2 separate regions of the Homo sapiens genome follow, and region 2 is linked to region 1. A link means that fine-mapping ties the variant in region 1 to the expression of a gene that starts in the linked region. Tissue or cell type: lung. Region 1 holds a variant in brackets; the other region holds the start of a gene. All regions are shown on one strand. Distances are from middle to middle.

Region 1 (7,915 bases):
ACATCTGCAACATGAATGAAAAGTTTTAACATAATCTAGTCATCAAAGAAACTCACTAACTGAATGAATTAAATTTTAGGCTAATAGTAAATATATATTTATATTTACAAAGAACTACAGAATAGATGTTTCAAAAATTACATTGATCTGGAAAGATAATCAAATGATAGAAAATAAAACATTACTGATATTTTTAAGTGGGAAATAATAGTACCCCTTCTCCAACCCACACCTGACATGGGGAAATTCAATATGCCTATATTTTCAAATCTAAAGACTATCACATGCTGGGTATAATGGCTCATGCCTGTAATCCCAGAACTTTAAGAAGCCAAGGCGAGTGGATAGCTTGAGGCCAGGAGTTTGAGACCAGCCTGGGCAACATAGGGAGACCCCCATCTCTAAAAAAATTAAAAAAACATTAGCCAGTCATGGTGGCGTGCACCTGTGGTCCCAGCTACTTGGGATGCTAAGATAGGAGGACTGCTTGAGCCCCAGAGGTCAAGGCAGCAGTGATCTGTGGTCACGCCACTGCACTCCAGTCTAGGCAACAAAGTGAGATCCTGTCTCAAAAAAAGAAAAGAAAGAATATCCCAATATAACTTCACAAACAACAGAAATCACTAGAAATACTGTCAACAGTCTAACAGCTGGAAAAAAATGTTGTATGTTAAGATATATGCTCCACACCACATGCCAACCCTATTTCTGTTTACCAAAATCTGAATTCTTACATACTACTTACAATCTCAAAATACTGATAGAGAAAAAAAGGAGTATGTCCACAACCTCCCCACACTTACTCTTCCAAAGTTCTTTTCTTTCCCTTGTCAATCACAGTCATCTGATCGTGGATTTTAAGATCTGGCTTCTGGGCTATTAATTTCTTCATGGTATGAGAACTAATGGATCCATTCAAGTGGGCATGAAGTTCCTAAGAGATACAACCAGTAAAACTTATCAAATATCCAATAGATTCATAGCATCTTACCAAGTACTTAATGTTGGTAGTTTGCAATAGGCAAACTGCTTACTAGATTTAGCTACATAATAAAGTTTACAAATTTTGCCTACAAAATTTACTTTTTCTTTTTTTGAGATGGAGTCTCCCTCTGTCACCCAGGCTGGAGTACACTGGTGCGATCTCAGCTCACTGTAACCTCCGATTCCTGGGTTCAAGCGATTCTCCTGCCTCCGCCTCCTGAGTAGCTGGGACTACAGGCATGCCACCAAGCCCAGCGAATTTTTGTATTTTTAGTAGAGATGGGGTTTTGCCATGTTGGCCAGTCTAGTCTCAAACTCCTGACCTCAGGTGAATCCACCCGCCTTGGCCTCCCAAAGCGCCAGAATTTCAGGCATGAGCCACTGCGCCCAGCCAAAATTTACTTTGATGAAAAGAAGCAACATCAAAGTCATTATAATTAGCAACCACTCAAGATTTCTGTAGTTGAATTCTCACCACTTTTGGCAATTCAGAATAGAAGTCTGTCTTGCAAGGCTGTTGCTCTTCTGCCTCTATCATTTTAGCAGGAAAAAAATGATTCTTCTCCACTCTTATTCTTAGTATGAGCAATATGATGTATTTCAGTCAGTAAATTGTATGGTACTGAATTTCCTTCAGATTGCTTTACTTCCACACATTTTGGTAAGATTAGCTGTATGTGTAGATCTGGGTTCAGCTTCACCTATTTTAACAAATGTTAATATTTTCAGATGTAAAAGCAAAGAAACAGGATTTTGTTAATTTTTTCTTTAAAAGGCAAAAGCTCCTCTAAAACTAACTTAAGTGTGTCTAAGGTGGGAAAACGATTAGTAAACAACATAAACTGGAAACAGGAAAAGACCTCAAGCTTATAAGAGGTGTACTAAAACCTGACATTTAGTAGAGTATATTCCTTAACTATTGGCACCTTCTATACAACGACTTCAAAAATTCAAAATTTTATAAGGCCTACTTTGGATAAAATATATATATATATATATATATATATATATAATTTTTTTGAGACAGTCTCCCTCTGTCACCCAGGCTGGAGTACACTGGCATGGTCTCAGCTCACTGCAGCCTCTATCTCCTGGGTTCAAGTGATTCTCCTGCCTCAGCTTCCCAAGTAGCTGGGATTACAGGTACATGCCACCACACCTGGCCAATTTTTGTATTTTTAATAGAGACAGGGTCTCACCATGTTGGCCAGGCTGGTCTCGAACTCCTGACCTCAAGTGATCCACCCGCCTCAGCCTCCCAAAGTGCTAGGATTACAGGCATGAGCCACCATGCCCGGCCAAAAATAAAATTTTAAATTTTGAATTGTTTAAAATATATAAAAGAAGAACAGAGGTGCTGGCATTAGATGGACCTAGGTTTGTCCTTTTACCAGCTCTACAGGTTAGAAGCTGTGTGGCCTTAGTCACTCACCTTCATGGCTTCAGTTTCTTTATTTACAAAAATGGGATTAAAAATGCAAAGTAGCAGTGACGATTAATAAAGTATTTTAAATTCCCCTCATCTATGTTCCCACATGAGCCAGTCACTGCCTTTAACTCAGCATTTAATCACACTGATATCTCAATCACTGATATACTTGTCTTTCTCTCTCACCAGACTGTAAGTTCCTTGAGGACAGGTCCTTTGAATTATTCCACCACTCTAACACTTAGCACAGTGCCTAGCACACTGTAGGTGATAAATCAATCATAATTTCCCTTCACTTCTGAAAGTGGTTTATAAGTGAAGATAAAATTCCAAGTGAAATTTAGTGATTTTCAAACTAGCCACCTTGACTCTCTGGGTTCTCACGTATTAATGAGGATGATGTTTAAGAATAACAGTTTCCATGTATTTGGAACCTAACAGGTATGTGACAAGCGCTTTTAATAATGTTATCTTTAATCCTTGAAATAACTTTGTGAAATATTACTGTATTGAAAATCAATAAATTGATACTGAGTGGGGTTAAATAAGTTACCAAGATATTAAAATGTACAATAAAGAAAGTAGTTTGTATAGGACTAAACATAGCCATAGAAATCCATAGAAAGGCCTACTTAGTATGAGATAAACATGGCATTTCAAAGTAATGCCATAGTAAGTGCTTAATAAATAGTAAAAAATGAAAAAGATGGACTATTTAATCAATGGCATTTAATATCTCTACCGAAAAACATAAATGATTTAATTAAAATGGAAAAACATACCTTTTTTTTTTTTTCTTTTGAGACAGGATCTTACTTTGTTGCCCAGGCTGGAGTGCAGTGTCACGATCACAGCTTGCTGCAGTCTCAAGCTTCCAGACTCAAGCGATCCTCCCACTTCAGCCTCCTAAGCAGCAGAGATCACAGGCATGCACCACAATGCCCATCTAATTTTATATAAAATTTTTTTTGTAGAGACGGGGTCTCACCATGTTGCCCAGGCTGGTCTCAAACTCCTGGGCTCAAGTGATCCACCAGCCTGAGCTGGGATTACAGGAGCGAGCCACTGCGCCCGGCCAGATTTTCAATTTTACTCCAGGATCCTGACCTTAATTTGTGCCCCATTCAAACCATCCTCCAGACTGACCTTTAACTAGCTGTGAGTAAATTTACTGACCCACTGGCTACAATGTTAACCTATGGAAATTAAAAAGCAACTAAGCAATCATAATCTTTACACATTAAAAAAAATTGTTGTTCCTTGCCTAAAACATGGATACCAACAACAGCATGCCATGACAAATTTAACTTTTCTGGACTGGTTTTGCTCTGGGACGGAAGGCAACAAACACTGGGATAAGATCCACGTTAGTAATACTTCATCAATATTAGAGCAGGGCCAGAAGCAAGTATCCTGTCTCCCAGGGAACTTTTTTCATGCTCCCACCTACTCCCCCAAAAGGGAACTCAGAATAAAAAAAAATTTGTTACTGTTTATTATGCACTTACCATGAGCCAGGCACTGTGGTGTCTTAGATAGTTATTTTGTTTAAATCCTCACAACAACCCCTGAGATATTATTATCCCCATTTTATATAAGAATAAACTGAGATTTAAACAATGGCCCCTCCTCCCCCGGCCTAAATCATAAGGCATCGAAATCAGAAATTTTACTCCATTCTCTTTCTTCTTTAATTACTTTTCTTGATCTGGTCTTTGCAAAACAAGTAGTATTTTTGACATAACACCTACATTTTAGGAACCTGTCATTAAATAAATTTGTTTCTATGGTGCTACGTATTTTTCAAAGTCCTTCAACTTTTTTTTTTTTTCTATTTGCCCCTCAATCAACCCTGAGATACCTCACGAAGCAGTACTTAATCTCATTTTAGAGGTGAGGATCCACTGACCCAGCAGGCATAGGTGAGCCCTTCTTCTAATCCCTTCAGAAGCAATTCTCAAACTGCTCAAATGTTCCATCAGATCTGAATGCCTTACACTAAACTGACAACTCTGTCACCAACTTTACAGAGAAAACAGAAGCCATCAGGTGCAAATTCCTTCTTTTTCTCTCTGCCCTACCTCACACCTGAGCTTATGATTATCCATAATCTTTTTTTTACCCCATCAGGAGTCACAGATAAAGGATTCATTCTCCTATCCCCACAACTAATACGTGCCCAGGATCCCATTTCTATCTATTCCAAGTTACTCTACCAGTGAGTTGTCTTCTCATTTTTCTGTTCCTTCAACCTCTCCCTCTCCACTAGCTGGTTTCCCTCACAGGACCAACACGCATGTGCAGTATTTGCTTCCACCTGAAAACAAAACAAAAGACTCTTTTATCCCACAATATTCTTTAGCCACTGCCCTGACCCTTTTTTCCTTCTGAGTTAAGCTCCTCGAAAGTATAATAATTTAGACTGGATACCTCCTTTAACTCACCTCCTATTCACTGAAACATGGATTCTGCCCTTATTGCTCCACAGAAACTGCTCTCCCTAAGGCCATTAATGAGCTTTTAAACACCAAATCTAAATGTCACTTTTCAATTACCGAATCTTTATCCTGATCCAAACCTTTTCTTTCTTATTTCATTTTGTTCCACAAGAAAACATTGGAAAATACGAAACTTTTTCTTGACTCCAGTATCCAAATCTGCTGGACTCCAAAACTCACACTCTTAACCATTATGCAGTACCACCTGTAGTTAACCATAAAGTTATCTGATTTCCTTTTCTATTTCAGCCAGTCAGTCACCAAATCCCAGTGAACAAATGATAAATTTCCTAAATGTCTCTGGAAGTGGTTTCCTATGGATGACTCCCAGACACCCAATTTAGAAACTTTATGATTATTCTGAAGTCTAACCTGGATTTACTCCTTAAAAACAAAGCTCAGAACATATCACAGGGAACAATCACCTCTCTTCAGTGACTCCCCTTTCTGGGGACATATTCAACACTACTTTAAAATCCACAGAATTCTCCAAGGCGGTGTGATGAGAAAGAGAGGCTG[A/C]GTGGTTTATTCACCGTCAGTCTAACATAGGGCTGGGAATACAAGGGAATCAACAGTCTACTATCTGTGGGGAAACGTCTTCTTGTTAGGTGTCTATAAATTATTTGTAAAGGTCGGTTTCTTCAGTTTGCACCCTGGCCTTAGTGACTTGTTTTCAAGTTTTAAATGGGGTTCTCTTTTGCAACTGTGAGAGCATTAAATAAATCAGCAACTATTAGCACCCAAGGAAGCTAACTAATCCTTGCCTACTGAAGGTCCGTGGTGCCGACCCTTCTTGGCTCCTACCAGACCCTTCCTTGGCGGTCCAAGGAAGCCAAGTCGTCAGTCCCCACAGACTCACCTCTTAGAGATTTCTCAACTACAAGGACTTAGGCAAGGTTTCCCTTTTGACTGGAAGGCTTGTAGAAACGTGACAACCCGCCTTCCCTAACACTCATGTCACAGCGGTAGCGGACCGTATTCTGGGACAAATGGAACTCACGACATTCCAAAGAAAGGTCAGCCGCAAGCGAACTTAGCACTGGCTACACCCTCCTCAATTCTGGTTGGCGAGATGCGCTCTTCCCGGAAGTGACGCACAAGTGCCGGCGGAAGGGGAAGTCCAGGAGCATGGGTGGTTTTTTTCCCCCTACCGAGGTCCGTGAGGTGTGTGCTAACCAAGGGGCGGCTCACAACCGTGACAGACTGCCATTCCTGAGTCTCTTCTGGCCATGGGCCCCCGGAGCCGTGAGCGTCGGGCAGGCGCGGTACAGAACACCAACGACAGCAGCGCCCTCAGCAAGCGTTCCCTGGCCGCGCGCGGGTACGTGCAGGACCCCTTTGCCGCGTTGCTGGTTCCGGGCGCGGCGCGCCGCGCACCGCTCATTCACCGAGGCTACTACGTCCGCGCACGCGCCGTGAGGCACTGCGTGCGCGCTTTTTTGGAGCAGATTGGCGCGCCCCAGGCCGCGCTTCGCGCGCAGATCTTGTCTCTCGGCGCTGGCTTCGACTCGCTCTATTTTCGCTTAAAAACCGCGGGCCGCCTGGCCCGGGCTGCAGTCTGGGAGGTGGATTTTCCGGACGTGGCGCGGCGCAAAGCAGAAAGGATTGGAGAGACGCCAGAGCTGTGCGCGTTAACCGGGCCTTTCGAGAGGGGGGAGCCCGCGTCCGCGCTGTGCTTTGAGAGCGCAGACTACTGCATCCTGGGTCTGGACTTGCGGCAGCTCCAGCGAGTGGAGGAGGCCCTGGGCGCCGCGGGGCTCGACGCAGCCTCACCCACTCTGCTCCTGGCCGAGGCGGTGCTGACCTACCTCGAGCCGGAGAGTGCCGCGGCCCTCATCGCCTGGGCAGCCCAGCGTTTTCCTAATGCCCTTTTCGTGGTCTATGAGCAGATGAGGCCTCAAGACGCCTTTGGCCAGTTCATGCTGCAACATTTTCGGCAGCTAAACTCCCCCCTGCATGGCCTGGAGCGTTTTCCTGACGTGGAGGCGCAGCGGCGCCGCTTCCTTCAAGCTGGCTGGACCGCCTGCGGTGCCGTGGACATGAATGAATTCTATCACTGCTTTCTTCCCGCAGAAGAACGCCGGCGGGTGGAAAATATTGAACCCTTTGACGAATTTGAGGAGTGGCATCTGAAGTGCGCCCATTATTTCATTCTGGCAGCTTCTAGGGGAGACACCCTCTCCCACACCCTAGTGTTTCCATCCTCAGAGGCATTTCCTCGCGTAAATCCTGCTTCGCCTTCAGGGGTATTCCCTGCCAGCGTAGTCAGTAGCGAGGGCCAGGTCCCAAACCTGAAGAGATATGGCCACGCCTCTGTCTTCTTGAGCCCAGACGTTATTCTCAGTGCAGGAGGATTTGGAGAGCAGGAGGGGCGGCACTGCCGAGTGAGCCAGTTTCACTTGCTCTCAAGAGATTGTGACTCTGAATGGAAAGGCAGCCAAATAGGCAGTTGTGGGACTGGAGTTCAGTGGGATGGACGCCTTTATCACACCATGACAAGACTCTCAGAGAGTCGGGTTCTGGTTCTGGGAGGGAGACTGTCCCCAGTAAGTCCAGCCTTGGGGGTTCTCCAGCTTCATTTTTTTAAGAGTGAGGATAATAACACTGAGGACCTGAAAGTGACAATAACAAAGGCTGGCCGAAAGGATGATTCCACTTTGTGTTGTTGGCGGCATTCAACAACAGAAGTGTCCTGTCAGAATCAGGAATATTTGTTTGTGTATGGGGGTCGAAGCGTGGTGGAACCTGTACTAAGTGACTGGCATTTCCTCCATGTAGGGACAATGGCTTGGGTCAGGATCCCAGTGGAGGGAGAAGTACCTGAAGCCCGGCATTCTCACAGTGCCTGCACTTGGCAAGGGGGAGCCCTTATTGCTGGAGGTCTCGGGGCTTCTGAGGAGCCATTGAACTCTGTGCTCTTTCTGAGACCAATCTCTTGTGGATTCCTCTGGGAGTCAGTAGACATCCAGCCTCCCATTACCCCAAGGTACTCCCACACAGCTCA
Region 2 (6,444 bases), 320 kb before region 1:
ACCCAGTAGTCATTCAGGAGCAGGTTGTTCAGTTTCCATGTAGTTGAGCGGTTTTGAGTGAGATTCTTAATCCTGAGTTCTAGTTTGATTGCACTGTGGTCTGAGAGATAGTTTGTTATAATTTCTGTTCTTTTACATTTGCTGAGGAGAGCTTTACTTCCAACTATGTGGCCAATTTTGGAATAGGTGTGGTGTGGTGCTGAAAAAAACGTATATTCTGTTGATTTGGGGTGGAGAGTTCTGTAGATGTCTATTAGGTCCGCTTGGTGGAGAGCTGAGTTCAATTCCTGGGTATTCTTGTTGACTTTCTGTCTCGTTGATCTGTCTAATGTTGACAGTGGGGTGTTAAAGTCTCCCATTATTAATGTGTGGGAGTCTAAGTCTCTTTGTAGGTCACTCAGGACTTGCTTTATGAATCTGGGTGCTCCTGTATTGGGTGCATATATATTTAGGATAGTTAGCTCTTCTTGTTGAATTGATCAACAAGGCCTTAATTACTTAATTGATCATTAAGTAATGGCCTTCGTCTCTTTTGATCTTTGTTGGTTTAAAGTCTGTTTTATCAGAGACTAGGATTGCAACCCCTGCCTTTTTTTGTTTTCCATTTGCTTGGTAGATCTTCCTCCATCCTTTTATTTTGAGCCTATGTGTGTCTCTGCACGTGAGATGGGTTTCCTGAATACAGCACACTGATGGGTCTTGACTCTTTATCCAATTTGCCAGTCTGTGTCTTTTAATTGGAGCATTTAGTCCATTTACATTTAAAGTTAATATTGTTATGTGTGAATTTGATCCTGTCATTATGATGTTAGCTGGTTATTTTGCTCATTAGTTGATGCAGTTTCTTCCTAGTCTCGATGGTCTTTACATTTTGGCATGATTTTGCAGCGGCTGGTACCGTTTGTTCCTGTCCATGTTTAGTGCTTCCTTCAGGAGCTCTTTTAGGGCAGGCCTGGTGGTGACAAAATCTCTCAGCATTTGCTTGTCTGTAAAGTATTTTATTTCTCCTTCACTTATGAAGCTTAATTTGGCTGGATATGAAATTCTGGGTTGAAAATTCTTTTCTTTAAGAATGTTGAATATTGGCCCCCACTCTCTTCTGGCTTGTAGAGTTTATGCCGAGAGATCTGCTGTTAGCCTGATGGGCTTCCCTTTCAGGGTAACCCACCTTTCTCTCTGGCTGCCCTTAACATTTTTTCCTTCATTTCAACTTTGGTGAATCTGACAATTATGTGTCTTGGTGTTGCTCTTCTCGAGGAGTATCTTTGTGGCATTCTCTGTATTTCCTGAATCTGAATGTTGGCCTGCCTTGCTAGATTGGGGAAGTTCTCCTGGATAATATCCTGTAGAGTGTTTTCCAACTTGGTTCCATTCTCCCCATCACTTTCAGGTACACCAGTCAGACGTAGATTTGGTCTTTTCACATAGTCCCATATTTCTTGGAGGCTTTGCTCATTTCTTTTTATTCTTTTTTCTCTAAACTTCCCTTCTCGCTTCATTTCATTCATTTCATCTTCCATCGCTGATACCCTTTCTTCCAGTTGATTGCATCGGCTCCTGAGGCTTCTGCATTCTTCACGTAGTTCTTGAGCCTTGGCTTTCAGCTCCATCAGCTCCTTTAAGCACTTCTCTGTATTGGTTATTGTAGTTATACATTCTTCTAAATTTTTTTCAAAGTTTTCAACTTCTTTGCCTTTGGTTTGAATGTCCTCCCGTAGCTCAGAGTAATTTGATCGTCTGAAGCCTTCTTCTCTCAGCTCGTCAAAGTCATTCTCCGTCCAGCTTTGTTCCGTTGCTGGTGAGGAACTGTGTTCCTTTGGAGGAGGAGAGGTGCTCTGCTTTTTAGAGTTTGCAGTTTTTCTGCTCTGTTTTTTCCCCATCTTTGTGGTTCTATCTACTTTTGGTTTTCGATGATGGTGATGTACAGATGGGTTTTTGGTGTGGACGTCCTTTCTGTTTGTTAGTTTTCCTTCTAACAGACAGGACCCTCAGCTGCAGGTCTGTTGGAGTACCTGGCCGTGTGAGGTGTCAGTCTGCCCCTGCTGGGGGTTGCCTCCCAGTTAGGCTGCTTGGGGGTCAGGGGTCAGGGACCCACTTGAGGAGGCAGTCTGGCCGTTCTCAGATCTCCAGCTGCGTGCTAGGAGAACCACTGCTCTCTTCAAAGCTGTCAGACAGGGACATTTAAGTCTGCAGAGGTTACTGCTGTCTTTTTGTTTGTCTGTGCCCTGCCCCCAGAGGTGGAGCCTACAGAGGCAGGCAGGCCTCCTTGAGCTGTGGTGGGCTCCACCCAGTTCGAGCTTCCCGGCTGCTTTGTTTACCTAAGCAAGCCTGGGCAATGGCAGGCACCCCTCCCCCAGCCTCGCTGCCGCCTTGCAGTTTGATCTCAGACTGCTGTGCTAGCAATCAGCGAGACTCCGTGGGTGTAGGACCCTCCGAGCCAGGTGCGGGATATAATCTCCTGGTGCGCTGTTTTTTAAGCCCGTCGGAAAAGCGAAGTTTTCGGGTGGGAGTGACCCGATTTTCCAGGTGCTGTCTGTCACCACTTTCTTTGACTAGGAAAGGGAACTCCCTGACCCCTTGCGCTTCCCGAGTGAGGCAATGCCTCGCCCTGCTTCGGCTCGTGCACAGTGCGCGCACCCACTGACCTGCGCCCACTGTCTGGCACTCCCTATTGAGATGAACCGGGTACCTCAGATGGAAATGCAGAAATCACCCGTCTTCTGCGTCACTCATGCTGGGAGCTGTCGACTGGAGCTGTTCCTATTCGGAGTATTGACATTTTAAAGAAATCCTAATTAAAATGGACAATATGGACAGATTATGATGGAATTATTCTTGTTCAGGTACTCTTTTCGTTTGGACAGAGGTATCTGCCGGTACTGAGATGTAAGTGATCAGCTGAAGGGAGAAACTGTACACCATGTGACGGACAAATTGCCTGCCTCAAGAAAGCACTTAGGACCATTCTGCAGCCACTCAGTGACCTTGGCTAGAAACCAATGGCTGTGCGGCGTGAGGTAAGATGAAAGGAAATACCCTAGGGATCCAGGACTTCTGCATTTGGTGAAACGTCCGCTTCCACTACAAGGCTTTGGGATGTCTAGTCTGTAGACTGGAGTAACATTAATACTGACTCATGCAGAAACAATATAGCTACATATTGAACTGGGGGAAGGGGTGGCAAAACCCTCTGCAAATAGGAAGTGCCACAAGAGCACCGAGATAAGGATGAGGCCCTGCGTGAGCGCAGCCTTCGGGTTTTCCTTGGGCCGATCAGCACCGACTCCACCGCTCTCGGCGAGGCACCTCCAGCTCCCGGGAATGAGAAATGTGCCCGCCACAGCAGGGGCCCACAGGAATGAAGGGCGCCGGCGCTGCGTAGGCCCAACAGTTCCCCGCGCCCTCGCCCCCGGCCCCGGCCCAGCCCGGCCCTTCTTCCCCCGCCTTGGCAGAGTGGCGTCATCAGGGGGCGAAAAACCCGACGAGCATGAGGCCCGCAGATCCCGTGTAGGAGATGCGACTCTCGAAGTTGTCGTCCGTGAGTTCGGAGGCAGCGGCGAGGCGGGCCGCGGCAAGAAGCAGCGCCACACCCGGGAACAGCGCTAGGCGGCGGAGGCGCATGGCGGCGAGGTGGGGTGGGGACGGCCGGAAGGGTCGCGGCTCGGCTGGGACTGCGGAGGTCGGGCGCGCGACCACAAACCGGCTGCCTGCGCTGGCGCGTCTGGCCCAGGGGACCTGCAGCCGGAGGTCCCAACCCCCAAACCCGGCTCGGGCCGCTGTGTGGCAGCCGCTGATTGGCTGCGCGTCGCCTTCGTCCGGCGGGCGGGACCAGCTGGTTACCGCTGAGTGGCCGGAGAGCGGGGCGGGGCGGGGCCTAGGCGGCGAGTGGCTGGGCGAGCGTTGCTCCGCATGGTCCTGGGCTGTGGGTAGGGGCTAGGGCCGGGTCCCGGGGTGAGCCGAAACCTGGGGGTCGAGCGGGGCGGGGAATGGGGCGCAGTGAGGCTGGGAGCCGGCCCTGAGCTCGTCTTGCATAGGGGTAGCCAGGCTCGGGGCACCTGAGCTGGAGGCGGAAGCGTGAAATAAGGACTGAGTGGGCAAAGAGAACCTGGGCTGAGGTGAGGCCCAGAAGCGAGAATGGAGGAGAGAAGGAGCTAGCCCCCGAAGGAGTGTTGGAGTGGACACACTTGGGACGGGACCCATTTTCAAAATGTCAGGCTTTGGCATTTTGTCCAATTTCTCTGCACTTGGTTTCTCTTGCGTGAGCAGGCCAAGACCTCCCCCAACTCCACCTCATTGCCCGATTGTCTCAGGCACAGGTGGGACCCAGATTCTTTGTCCAGCCCCGGGCCCCTGCCCTTGTGGCTGCTCCTTTTTCTTGCGGTGTTTTTGTTTGTTTTGTTTTGTTTTTAATGAGTTTTAATTAGAAATGCCATCACAAAGTGAAGATGCCTGGCCGCTTGGTCGACTGTGCAATGTCTTTACCACTTAGCCCCTTTTGTTTCAAAACACCCTGAGTCCTAGTAGAATGTTTGTTCTTCCCAACTGCTCCTAGTTCGTAGATGTGGGTACATTAAGGAATCTTAAGGGTAAAGAGGGTGGGGAGGAGGGGACAGAAAACCTGTAATCCTTGGTGCAGCTCCAAGAATGAAATGACACTTGATGCTTACATTTTCTTAGCAGACATGGCCGCTTACCAACAAGAAGAGCAGATGCAGCTTCCCCGAGCTGATGCCATTCGTTCACGTCTCATCGATACTTTCTCTCTCATTGAGCATTTGCAAGGCTTGAGCCAAGCTGTGCCGCGGCACACTATCAGGGAGTTACTTGGTCAGCAGCCTATTTCTTCACTAATTTAAATTTAAGACTCCTATCCACATCCTCTACATTTAAGAGTGGAAAATTCTGGGGAGGTTTAGTTGCTGGTTTACCAAACTTGATAAATCAAGGGCTTGTAAATAAAACTGAAGAGATAGAATCCACGTCTTTCACTTTTAGGCCTAGGATAGCCACTAGCCATGGATGATTGGGAAGAGTTTCTGTCAAAGACTCTTAAAACTTTGAGAGTGAGCCTGCTGCTTTTGTGGGCATGGACAGTGTTGGTCATAAGCAATACATTTGCTCTCACTCCAAACAGAATTCTTAGTTGCTGTGAGAAGAGAAGGACTAGCAGTAAGGCATTAGGGGAACCCATTACCTGACCAGTATCCCTGCCCCCAACCCTACCTGGTCTATTTTGTTTGTATTTATCCACTATCCCTTTTTAATTTTTGTTGTAGATCCTTCCCGCCAGAAGAAACTTGTATTGGGAGATCAACACCAGCTAGTGCGTTTCTCTATAAAGCCTCAGCGTATAGAACAGATTTCACATGCCCAGAGGCTGTTGAGCAGGCTTCATGTGCGCTGCAGTCAGAGGCCACCTCTTTCTTTGTGGGCCGGATGGGTCCTTGAGTGTATCCTTTCATGTCACTCATTTTTATCCTGGCTGTTGATCATCTGCCTAATGACTTATTTTTTGCTCCCCATACTCCACTGTCTCATTTTCACTGCTTATGTTATTGCTCTTATTATTTCAGCTGCATAAATCAGAAAGAACTCCACTCTGTACATTTCCTTAAGAGACAACAGGTCCTCTCTTCAAAAACTTCATCATCTTCCTGGTCTTTTTGAATACGATCATATTGATGGTTGAAATAGGTGAGAACTGACCTTGTATGAAAGAGGAAGTGAGGCCGGGCACGCCGGCTCACACGTGTAATCCTAGCACTTTGGGAGGCCGGGGCGTGTGGATTGCCGGAGCTCAGGAGTTGGAGACCAGCCTGGGCAACATGGTGAAACCCTGTCTCTACTAAAAAATACAAAAAATTAGCCGGGCTTGGTAGCACGCGCTTGTAGTCCCAGCTACTTGGGAGGCTGAGGCAGGAGAATCGCTTAAACCCAGGAGGCGTAGGTTTCAGTGAGCCGAGATTGTGCCACTGCATTTCAGCCTGGGCGACAGAGTACAACTCTGTCTCAAAAAAAAAAAAAAGAAAAAGAAAAAGAGGAAGTGGGTAGGAGTAATTTTTTTTTCTAAATTGATCATTTTACATTTTTGAATGTCATTTGAAATGTGACATTTATATTAAGGACAATTATATTAAGCCTCCTGGAGTAGAATTTATGCAACTGCTAAAATCTAGAAATATTCGCTGGGCACGGTAGCTCACACCTGTAATCTCAGCACTTTGGGAGGCCGAGGTGGTTGAATCACTTGAGGTCAGGAATTCAAGACCAGCCTAGCCAACATGTTGAAACCCCATCTGTACTAAAAATAGAAAAAATTAGCTGGGCGTGGTGGTGGGCACCTGTAATCCCAGCTACTCAGTAGGCTGAGGCAGGAGGACGCTTGATCGTGGGAAGCCGAGGTTGCAGTGAGCTGAAATCACGCCACTGCACCCCATCTCAAAA

The links. PIP is the estimated chance that this variant, and not a neighbour inherited with it, causes the effect.
Region 2: it holds the start of CATSPER2, and the variant in region 1 is fine-mapped to the expression of CATSPER2 in lung (TOPMed, PIP 0.92).

Annotation. Positions count from the first base shown.
Region 1 is chr15:43,328,715-43,336,629 of GRCh38, reverse strand. LCMT2 (leucine carboxyl methyltransferase 2) reads left to right here and starts at 6,057. Exons shown (of 1, transcript NM_014793.5): 1 at 6,057-7,915. The coding sequence starts at 6,141. It overlaps MAPDA (N6-Methyl-AMP deaminase), which reads right to left and starts at 5,958. Exons shown (of 13, transcript NM_001324366.2): 1 at 5,771-5,958; 2 at 4,630-4,730; 3 at 3,196-3,319; 4 at 1,460-1,685; 5 at 804-934; 6 at 1-4. The coding sequence starts at 1,522. RefSeq lists enhancers at 5,917-5,966, 5,199-6,149. The variant A/C (reference allele first, on the strand shown) is at 5,431.
Region 2 is chr15:43,646,300-43,652,743 of GRCh38, reverse strand. CATSPER2 (cation channel sperm associated 2) reads left to right here and starts at 3,900. Exons shown (of 13, transcript NM_172095.4): 1 at 3,900-4,115; 2 at 4,681-4,827; 3 at 5,277-5,450; 4 at 5,626-5,694. The coding sequence starts at 4,683. It also overlaps the pseudogene PPIP5K1P1-CATSPER2 and the pseudogene PDIA3P2.